3 linked regions of the Homo sapiens genome follow. The protein of the gene in region 2 purifies or fractionates together with the protein of the main gene of each other region. This does not show direct contact. Each region holds a gene or a part of one and is shown on either strand. Other genes may lie near its edges.

Region 1 (3,500 bases), on a different chromosome or scaffold from region 2:
GAAAAATCTGTGATCTGACTGACTAGCATTATTCTCACTCAGAAACATGACACCAGTATGTGAATTACAACAGTAAATTCACATTCAAGATGAATATGCAATAAACATTTATAAAAAGACATCAACTATTAATTTACATAGGGCTATAAAATACTTTTAAAAATATGTACATGGTTATTCAAAAGGAGGAGCTCAATTTCAGTAAGAAATTATATGGTTGAACGCATGGTCACCATTTTTTTTTTTTTTTGAGACAGAGTTTTGCTCTTGTTGCCCAGGCTGGAGTGCAATGGTGCAATCTCGACTCACTGCAACCTCCACCTCCTGGGTTCAAGCTATTCTCCTGCCTCAGCATCCCAAAGTAGCTGAGATTACAGGCACCCGCCACCACACCCAGCTAATTTTTTTGTATATTCTGTTGAGGTGGGGTTTCACCATGTTGGCCAGGCTGGTCTTGAGCTCCTGACTTCAGGTGATCCACCCACCTCGGCCTCCCAAAGTGCTGGGATTACAGGTGTGAGCCACCGCGCCCGGCCATTCCCCATAATTTTTCTTTTTGTGACAGAGTCTTGCTCTGACACCCAGGCTGGACTACAGTGGTGCGATCTCAGCTCACTGCAACCTCTGCCTCCTGGGTTCAAGCCGATTCTCCTGCCTCAGCCTCCCGAGTAGCTAGGATTACAGGCATGGGCCACCACACCCTGGTGATTTTGGTATTTTTAGTAGAGATGGGGTTTCACCATGTTGGTCAGGCTGGTCTCAAACTCCTGACCTCAGGTATCTACCCACCTCGGCCTCCCAAAGTGCTGGGATTACAGGCGTGAGCCACTGCGCCCGACCCATTCACCATAATTTTAATGGCCAATCAGATCACTCAATTTCTCTCATTCACAACAAATACATATAAAATGAATGTATCTTCAATTTAAACCTAAAACCTGTTGTTCATATGCAGCAATTTACTTTGGGGATTCACATTAATTTGGACCAGAGCTCAGCAAAAGGAGTTCCTCTTCTCACTCTCTCTCCTTGGAACTCAAACGTAAGGAAGTGTCTAAGCACAGTAACAGCATAGCATATTGAAATGCAGTTTCATAAATGCAACAATCAGCTGTATACTCCCCCTTTTTTTGACTATGGAGGTAACCTTTTTGAAAGCATTCCTAAGCAAGTTATACTACATCTACACTACTATGTGGTAGTAAAATATAGCAGTAGTAAAGCCAGTTCTTTAGCTTAGAAAAGAAACTAAAACTACATTTTCCTTTTTAGTACCTTCCACTTTCCTACCCTTCCATTCAGAAAAGACAAGCAGGGCATGTTAATTCAAAAGACAAAATGATTACAATGCCAGATACCGATCTAAAATGTATTCTGCGTTGAATATGGTCTACATCCATCCATTTATACTTTTGCCATGGCCATATATATCACTGGTCAAGTACTTGGGCTTCCTTACACAGGAAAAGTCAGTTGCTTGGCACCTAGAAAAGCTGTCAGTGAGGTGGAACTGAGTAAATCCTAGCTCCTACGTGGTCTGCTCATCCATAAGCCCTAGCCAGAAGTGTGATAAACATTCAGCAATGGGGCCCTACTGGGCTCCTGATCCCAAATCCAGAGGGAAATCTCCCAGAGTTTATGGTCAAAGATGTACACCGGAGTGTACAAGTTTAGGTCAAGGTTACCTGAATCGCACTGAACTTTTGGGGGAATGCTTGATAAGTGAGTGTGGGTTATAGTTAGGCTCATTTTATGGTTTATTTCTATTTGAACAGAATTTAAGGATGACTTAGCTGAGATCCACCTGGGCACACAGGTACTTATTAATAAAGTCAAAGGATATTAATCTAAAGACCATTACACAAAGGCTATTTACAGAGAGAAACCCAAGACCTTTACTTTTTGTTTTTGAGACTGAGTCTCTGTCACTCAGGCTGGAGTGCAATGGTGAGATCTTGGCTCACTGCAACTTCTGCCTCCTGCGTTCAAGTGATTCTCCTGTCTCAGCCTCCTGAGTAGTTGGGATTACAGTTGCACGCCACCATGTCCGGCTAATTTTTGTATTTTTTGTAGAGGCGGGGTTTCACAATGTTGGCCAGGCTGATCTCGAACTCTTGACTTTGTGATCCGCCCACCTTGGCCTCCCAAAGTGCTGGTGGGATTGCAGGTGTGAGCCACTGCGCCCAGCCCCGATCTTTACTTTTAATATAATTATATTATGTATGACCAAAAGATGGTTCTCAACTGCCTTTCATTCAGCCAAAGATGGTTAGGGTGAAACAAATACTGTTTTGAAAGATAAATATGGCACTGAATGTAATAGTGACAGTTTGGGGTTCATTAGTCACATTTAGGAAATTATAGTTTTAGTCTCACAAGTTCTAACTCCCTTTTGTGATGATTCTCAAAATAATTTATCTGTTTTGCTCTGTTTTAACTTGGGAGACAAGTATGGAAGAATAAACTGTCAGACGAACAGTATTCTAAGATACCAACAATAAAATTATCAGCAAAAGCTCCACAGCTGCTGTGCTAAAAATAAAATGCTGGAGCAAAAAAAGACAAAAGGTGTATGCACTGTTATCAAAATCTGTTCAAACACTCTTTGGAGAACAAATGTCAAATGCAACTTTAAAACAACAATGACAAACATTACCATGTAACACATATTTGAAAAGTGAGTAGGACTTTTTAACAATACATAATTGACATATTATGAACAAGACCTATATATATAAACAATGGGGATCTATTGCTAACAAGTTATTTTCTCCCTGTATTTTATCTTTAGCAGTACCTGAAAACCCAATGAATTAGCCACAGGATATTTTCCACTTTAAGAAGTAAAGCCATGTAGATAAAACCAAGTCTTCTATGTTAAATTTATGGCAGGTGATATAATGCAAATAATAGCCTTCTTTCAAGTGAGCTCTTTTTATTCTATCATCCTAAGGAGAAAAATTTACTCCAGTTAATGTTTTATAAATACAGATTAACTTCGGCAAACCATTTAGATATTGTGTCAAATGCTGGATTAATGTATGGCACAGCAATTTTCTTCTATCTATCTATCTATCTATATCAGCTGAACCGGGTAGGTCTGGCACATTAAGAATATGCTTGTCCTCAGAAGATAAGTCTTTTGTACCTCTATCAATCAATCAGAAGAATAAAATCAGAAGTCAGATCAAAGATTAAGTTTGATGTTCTGACTCTCAAAAGAAAAACATGAGATAGATGCTTCAGGAAAAAAAAAAAATCACTATTAATTCCCCCCAGCTGCCTGCTCCCAAAATCCTACAACACATTTTCATTCCAAATTATAGACAGATGAAAACCACAAAAACGAGTCCCTTTCAGAGGAACTTATATTTAATGCCCAGTAGGGTATATGATGAAGAACCCTCACATCAAATACAGTGCACGCTGCTGTATTTATATTTTGGGTAGTTCCACTAAAAGCTATACTGCAAACAATGAGGCTTGTTGTAAAAGGATCA
Region 2 (5,053 bases):
TCAAAGACGGGAACAGTACATCACTGTGGTCTCATTTTAACCAGTCTCTGGGTCTGATCATTAAAAGAACATGTATTTCTCAAATAAAAGTTCTTTTCTTCTCTCAAATCCCAGAAAATAAATTCAGAATTTGGAACTGCACATTTAGGTCTTGGAGGGCTGGTGAGCTATGCACATTTGCGGGCATTTGGGCAAAGGGAGGAGGGAGAGAATTGAAGTTCTCAAGTTTAATCAATGCACATGTATGATCCTGGTTGGGTTTATGGGCCCCGTGATCTCTGAATCCGTGTCAGATCTGAAGATGACAGGAGCACTGAAGGAGGTGAAATAACTGATTGCTGTCCTGAAGTGATTTTTGTAGAAATCTAGTCTAACTGCTCTAGAAGGGACTGTAGATCCCAAATAGAGAGACTATTTTGTTTGCAGATTTGGGGAGCACCTTGCTGCACTTTGTCATACAATTGTGGGTTGTGGCTGGAATCCTGAGAAGAAAGGTTTTTCTCTCAAGTGAAGCCTGGTGGGCACTTTGTATATAACGTCCAGTACTTCTAAACAGTGCATGGAAAATATGACTAAAAGAAAAATTTTCAGCCAGGCACGGTGGCTCACGCCTATAATCCCAGCACTTTGGGAGGCCAAGGCCGGTGGATCATGAGGTCAGAAGATGGAGACCATCCTGGCCAACATGGCGAAACCCCGTCTCTACTAAAAATACAAAAAAATTAGCTGAGTGTGGTGGCGCGCCTGTAATCCCAACTACTCAGGAGGCTGAGCAGGTGAATCGCTTGAACCTGGGAGGTGGAGAATGCGGTGAGCCGAGATCGCACTACTGCACTCCAGCCTGGCGACACAGCGAAGACTCCGTCTTAAAAAAAAAAAAAAAGAGAAAAATTATCTCCAATCCTAAAAAAATTTTCCACCATAATAGAACAGCAAGAAAATGTTTTGTTATATAATTAAACCAAAATGTGATGTGCATCACAGGCAATCTACTAAGAGACTGCAAACACAGAAAAAAAGTCACCATTAGTTCTTAAGTAGAAGACTTGAAAGCACCATTTACACAGTTTATTATTTCACCTAGTAATTTGGGAGGTAATCTGGGTTTTCTAATTGGTAATATTCAAAAGAAAAATAAACTTCCCACATCTTCATGACAGGACGTAGACCCACAATGTGGAGCCAGGTACCTGCTGAAGGCAGCCTCCCACCCTCCTACAGAAACTGTGGGATATATTCTTGCTATTCACATTTCAAAGCAATAGTTCCCAAGTCCTAGATAAAGACAAGTCTGAGTCAAAAAAGACAAATGACCTATTTAACTGATAAAAATGATTTACATATATTTCAAAAACTGGTGAAAATAATTATAAAAATTTTCCACCTAAATGCTTTAAGAAAAGGGAGAAGAGCAAAAATTCTTCCCTCACTCTAAAGAGAAATCATTAAGCCTCTTCTAATTTGTATTTGCTCCTACAACAGCCAGGTCTAAGGCATGGTCTTGAATTCCCTAACGTCTGAATTCTTGTAGGCACGTAAGGGATGAACTTGGGCACACTGTATGCACAGAAAAGAGGATTTGTGGGGAAGGAAAAAGCACAAGACAGCAAGGAGCTATCAAGAGCCATGGGGTGGGGGCAGGGCACAACTGATGAAAGGACTGGTTTGTGCTACAGGTACAGGCCCAGGCAGGGCTACGCACTGACTGATTCCTGAGTCCATAAAGGCATAGGAGATTAAGATCAGATGGTCCAGAAGCCTGGGTTGGAGAAGGAAACGGGCTCCTGCTAAACAGATCTGGGGTTGAGATGAGCCAGGAGTCTTCTGGGCACTGCGTGTGCTTTTGGCAGAAAACTGTAGGAGCAAAACTGCCATGGGCACAATTCCTGAGGGTAGAACCCTGTCTTAGGCCAGGTGTGGCCGTGCGAATGCCCAGTGGGCGTGCTCAGGAGTGGGTTAGCATTGGGTGGGGGCTGGCAGCAGGATGCGGGGAAGGGATGTTTCTTAGAACTGCTTTCCTCTAAGTTCCCAGTCCCCTTTCTCCCCGGGAGGAGGCCTGGAGGAAGAGGACAGTGCCCAGCGGGACAGCGCCTGTGCAGAACCCGGCCGCGCCTCCTGCGGACACCAGGTGACTTCCTCCAACCCAGACTCGGCCATGTCTTTCTTCTGACAGAAAACTTGCGGAGTTTCCTCAACACCAGTCAATGCTCCAACCCCAACGGGGTGTCCAGCAACTCACTAACGACACCACCCAGAGTCAGCGCTGACCCCACAAGCTCAGCACTCTTCCCGCAGCTGCTCTCCTGCAGACGCCAGTCCCTGCCTCTGGACACCCGTCTTCATTTCTGAACCCCTGCCTACAAACCAGGGACGCCCACACCCTCCTCAAGTTCAATAATGTGGCAGAACTACTCACAGAACTAAGAGAAGCGCTGTGCGCACCGACACCAGCGTATTCTAAAAGATGCGAACAGACACCAGCGTATTCAGGAACAGCCACGCGGAGGAGGCGCACAGGGCAAGGGGACTGGCGGCAAAGTTGGCGCAGGCAGGTGATTTGCTTCGCTTCCTCACACACCTCACAAAAGCCTTTCCTTCAAGACCCGCTGGCAGTCCCCAAACCACGAGCCACGGCAGAGCTTTCCCATTAATAAGTCCTGTTTGCTCACATGAACTCCATGTTTTGATGGGGCCTCAATCTCATTCTGAACAGGGTAAAGTAGGGACGGGATTCCGGACCACAGCTCCTCCCACGCCGGCACCGCGCAGGCCGCCGCGGTGTCTTCCGGATGAGCTCCTACTCACTCCACAGCCCGGGGAAAGTGCAGGGCTACCGGCGCAGAGCTGCACAAGGAGGGCTGCAGGCTGGGCCAGAGCCGCTGTACGGGGACTGACAAGAGCGCGGGTCCCTCACCGGAGGGGACTGAGGACAGAGGGCTGAGCGGGAACTCCATTCACAGACTCCTCCCACCGCCGCCATTTCCCGCCGGTTCCGATGAGGCCTCCACAGCCTTGGGACGCCCTGCCCTGCACACTCACCATTTCCCGACTTCAGGAGTGTCCCAGAGTCTTAGATACGAATCATCCAATACCGGCAGGTCACAGAGCCACAGAGGCTGAGGCTGTGGCAGAATCACCGAGGCTTCCCTAAGGAGCGGGAGCAGAGCGATGAGGCCCTAACCGAGCTCTGGCTGGAGCTACAAGCAAAAGCCGCGCCAGATCCCGGATGCCGCACCCTCCTCTCTGCTGCGCGCCTCATTCGGCAGTTGTCAATCCAGCGCTCTAATTGGATAGAGCTGTAAGTCTCCCGCCTCAGGCCTTGAGTGACAGAAGTTGCAACCATACACAGCACTGAATGAGGCGAGAGTGACAGGCTCTGGCCTCCTGGTACTTTGAGGCAGGTTTTTTGTGTTTGTTTTTTGAGTCTGGCTCTTCTCGCCCAGGCTGGAGTGCAGTGGCGCGAACTCGGCTCTCTGCAACCTCTGCCTCCCGGGTTTAAGCGATTCTCCTCAGCCTCCCAAGTAGCTGGGATTACAGGTGCCCACCACCACACCCGGCCAATTTCTGTATTTTTAGCAGAGACAGGGTTTCACCATGTTGGCCAGGCTGGTCTTGAACTCCTGACCTCAGGGTATCTGTTCGCCTATGTCTCCCAAAATGCTGGGATTAAAGGCGTGAGCCACCACGCCCGGCCCAGGCTGGGGTGTTATCTCTGTGCTTGGCTTGGTACAGCCCAGTGGTCATTTTTTTAACCTTGTGGTATGTAAGGTTAGGTCCATTTATAATATAAATTATACACACACGCATGCATGCACGCACATGCACACACACGTACACATGCACGCGTGCATACACAAACTTGTTCACAAACGGAAACAATATAATGACAATTATTTTAATGTTTTATAACCTTTCTGGCCTCTGGTCTTTTGAGTAGGACACATGAGATTTTAAGAAGGAAGTAATCCTCTAAAAAATAAAATGTTAGCTATTAGTGAATTTTCAATTTTTTATTAGCCACATCGAAAATAATAAAAACAAGTGAGATTGTTTGTGATAATTTTAGCCTACTATATCCAAAATATTATTGTTTTAATATGTGATCAATATATAATTGAGAGGTGAAGCCAGCTGGACTTCCTGGGTAAACTGGGGACTTGGAGAACTTTCCTGTCTTACAAGAGGATTGTAAAATGTACCAATCAGCACTCTGTAAAAACGCACCAATCAGTGCTCTGTAGCTAGCAAGGGGATTGTAAAATGCACCAATCAGCACTCTGTAAAATGCACCAATCAGCAGGATCCTAAAAGTAGCCAATTGCAGGGAGGATTGAAAAAAGGGCACTGTGATAGGACAAAAACGGAACACGGGAGGGCACAATTAAGGGGAAATGGGAGGTGGAATAAAAGCTGACCACCCCAGCCAGCAGTGGCAACCAACTGGGGTCCCCTTCGATGCTGTGGAAGCTTTGTTATTTCCCTCTTCAAAATAAACCTTGCTACTGCTCACTCTTTGGGTTCGTGCTATCTTTAAAAGCTGTAACACTCACCACAAAGGTCCGTGGCTTCATTCTTGGTCAGCAAGACCACAAACCCACCGGAAGGAACCAACTCCAGACACATAATTAGGAATACCTATATTTTGCCAGGCGCTGTGGCTCACGCCTGTAATCCCAGCACTTTGGGAGGCTGAGGTGGGTGGATCACGAGGTCAGGAGATCGAGACCATCCTGGCTAACATGGTGAAAGCCCGTCTCTATTAAAAATACAAAAAAATTACCCAGGCGTGGTGGCGGGTACCTGTAGTCCCAGCTACTCAGGAGGCTGAGGCAGGAGAATGGCGTGAACCCGAGAGGCAGAGCTTGCAGTGAGCCGAGATTGCACCACTGCACTCCAACCTGAGCGACAGAGCAAGACTCCGTCTCAAAAAAAAAAAAAAAAAAAGAAGTAAAGTATATTTCTGGTATAATTATTCTAAACTCACTGTGCATTTTTTGTTTGCAGCACATTTTACTTCAAACCATCCACATTCCAGGTACCCAGTAGCTACATA
Region 3 (2,278 bases), on a different chromosome or scaffold from region 2:
ACCATTTTTAAAAAGGAATGGAAGCTTTCCAGAGACAATATACCTTCTGTGACAGACATTAGTGAACTCATCAGCTTTTCCTGTTCTCTCCCCTCCAGCTACGTGGTGATGCTACTCTTCCTGACTCCCTCGAAGTTAGGAGTGTCCATGTGACTAATTCTGAATACTGGGTTGTGGCCAACCAGACATGTATCACTACTGGCTGGAGCTAGTATGAAACTCTCCAGCTCCCCTTCTCCTTATTGTGGTGACCACAGATATCTCAGATGGTTGAGGCCCTGTCAGCAGGTCCCTGGGTGTGGATGATAGGAGCAGGGCGCCCTGCCAAACTGGGGTGGGCCTGGAGCAAGAGTGAGGAATAACCTGTATTATGTGAAGCCGCTGAAGGGTGAGGGTTGTCAGCACTGCATAATCTAGCCTGTCCTAACTAATATACGTCCCTTGCTTGGAAAATGCAGAGTCCAGGTCATGAGTTTTAACAAAGATACAGAAACGAAATATGCTGGGTGGCACAGTGAAATTTATTTGTCTTTATGATTTACACATAATAATTAAACACACAAAAGAAAAAACACTGTCAAGATGGCCATATGTAGCTTAGGAAATGACTGGTCCCAATGCAATCATATAAATGTTCATTCAGCGTAAAAATGAGTTTCTTTTTAATGGTTTTAATCTTTTTTTTTTCAGTCCCCAAGGCTTGTACCACTCAGTACAAATGTTTTTGCTACTGGGTTATCATCAGGAACATGATGTTTACCAATTCCCAGGAAATGAATAAAATCAACAGAAACATCCTGTGACAACAGAGCACATTTTCATAGAAATGAAATTGATGAGCTTATTACAGTTTGAATCAGTTCAGCTATTAGATCTACACATAAAACATGAAACAATATTAACAAATTACATTTGTATTAAGTTTTTATTTAAAAATATTTATCACACTTTTTTGTGCAAGGGTTCCATTGATTTCTTTGGTTTTAAACACGATAGATCTATTTTACCTAAATATATATAGTTCTATTTGTACCAAACATCAAAAATCAAAAAAACAAAATTTCAAAGGGTAAAAATGGAATTATTGCTTCAATATAAAAAAGGCCTAGCCCATTTGAGAACTACTGCCATTATTGCTTTCCTATTTGAAAAACTATCCTGGAAATCAAGGAATGTACCCCATAGCTCCCTGCAGAAAGTATAAATTGGTTGCACATTATCATCATATTAATATGACCCTACCTTCACCAAAGCTATCCTGATCTTGTCCTTAAAAAATGAAACAAAGCAAAATAGCATAAATAAATAAGTTTACCTAAGGGGATACAATAAATAGCCTAGTATACTAGATAGGAATAAAGAATATTGTAACATAAAGCCCTTCAGTGCTGTACAATGCAACAATAGCTTTGGATTTTCAAGGTTTAGAGACCTTGAAAATCCATTTCATAACAGTTTTATTACTGGTATGCAGCTGACAGAACAAGAGAATACACTTCTTTTGTTCTCCTCATCTTAGAGTGAATGCACAGCAGATACAACTGTCAATTCTGCCTTTTGGGAATTTACCTGGGCATGTACCATTGTCACTTTTTGACCTCTGCCTAATTGTAGGGCAAAATCTTAGGATTAAAAATATCCAAATATTCCTTCAATTCCTAGTGGTTTCTTGGTCTCCAGAATAGTTAAAAACAGAGAGGAAATTAGACTCAAAAGTTTTGCTGCCTTCTTTTCTTTGCATCCATCGCATCCAGAATGGGCTGTCTTTTCGCAGTGTATCTCTGACGAAGTTCTTCTATCTCCCGTTCCATCATGGGGTCCAGTGCTTTTAACCGCATCTGTAGTTCTTCTAAACTTAGATTTTTCAACTAGATACAGAAAGAAAGATACCAATACAATGAAATTATCCACATTATCCACAATCAATACAATGAAATTAGACTTTAATGTCTAATGAGTTTTAACATAAATATTTCAGCAAATTCTTTACATCATCTTTGAAGTATAGTTCAACAATTAAAACAGGAATTTCTTCCTTGAAGAACTCAGAGGTCATATCTTGCAAGAACCTCCAGTAATCTGCAATGAAGCAATCCGATCCTCTGCCTTTAATAAAGGGCAAATGAGAAAAATACGCTGATGGAATTTGTAAAAAGGTACAAAGACAAATCCACCACTGCCAACAAACAGATTTTCAGAATATGTTCCAGGTATATTCACTCTAACTTTTTACATCTTTGCCAGCTACTGAGTGCTACAATAATCATGAACACTTGCA

What was found. The genes of interacting proteins can lie anywhere in the genome.
Region 1: the proteins of ZNF718 (region 2) and TRIM24 purify together in Homo sapiens (affinity purification with mass spectrometry; one large-scale study listed by BioGRID and IntAct). This does not show direct contact.
Region 3: the proteins of ZNF718 (region 2) and STK3 purify together in Homo sapiens (affinity purification with mass spectrometry; one large-scale study listed by BioGRID and IntAct). This does not show direct contact.

What each region holds. Positions count from the first base shown.
Region 1 is NC_000007.14:138,585,759-138,589,258, reverse strand, and holds part of TRIM24 (transcription intermediary factor 1-alpha), read right to left. Parts: 3' UTR 1-3,500. UniProt on the Homo sapiens protein: Transcriptional coactivator that interacts with numerous nuclear receptors and coactivators and modulates the transcription of target genes.
Region 2 is NC_000004.12:122,660-127,712, reverse strand, and holds the start of ZNF718 (zinc finger protein 718), read right to left. Parts: upstream 3,213-5,053; 5' UTR 3,043-3,212; coding exon 3,040-3,042; exon of another isoform or gene 2,942-3,039; coding exon of another isoform or gene 2,465-2,941; exon of another isoform or gene 2,122-2,464; intron 650-2,121; exon of another isoform or gene 1-649. Other genes in the region: uncharacterized protein LOC124900641, read left to right, coding at 2,465-2,941. UniProt on the Homo sapiens protein: May be involved in transcriptional regulation.
Region 3 is NC_000008.11:98,454,133-98,456,410, forward strand, and holds the end of STK3 (serine/threonine-protein kinase 3), read right to left. Parts: exon of another isoform or gene 2,107-2,278; coding exon of another isoform or gene 2,053-2,106; exon of another isoform or gene 1,869-2,052; coding exon 1,710-1,868; 3' UTR 501-1,709; downstream 1-500. UniProt on the Homo sapiens protein: Stress-activated, pro-apoptotic kinase which, following caspase-cleavage, enters the nucleus and induces chromatin condensation followed by internucleosomal DNA fragmentation.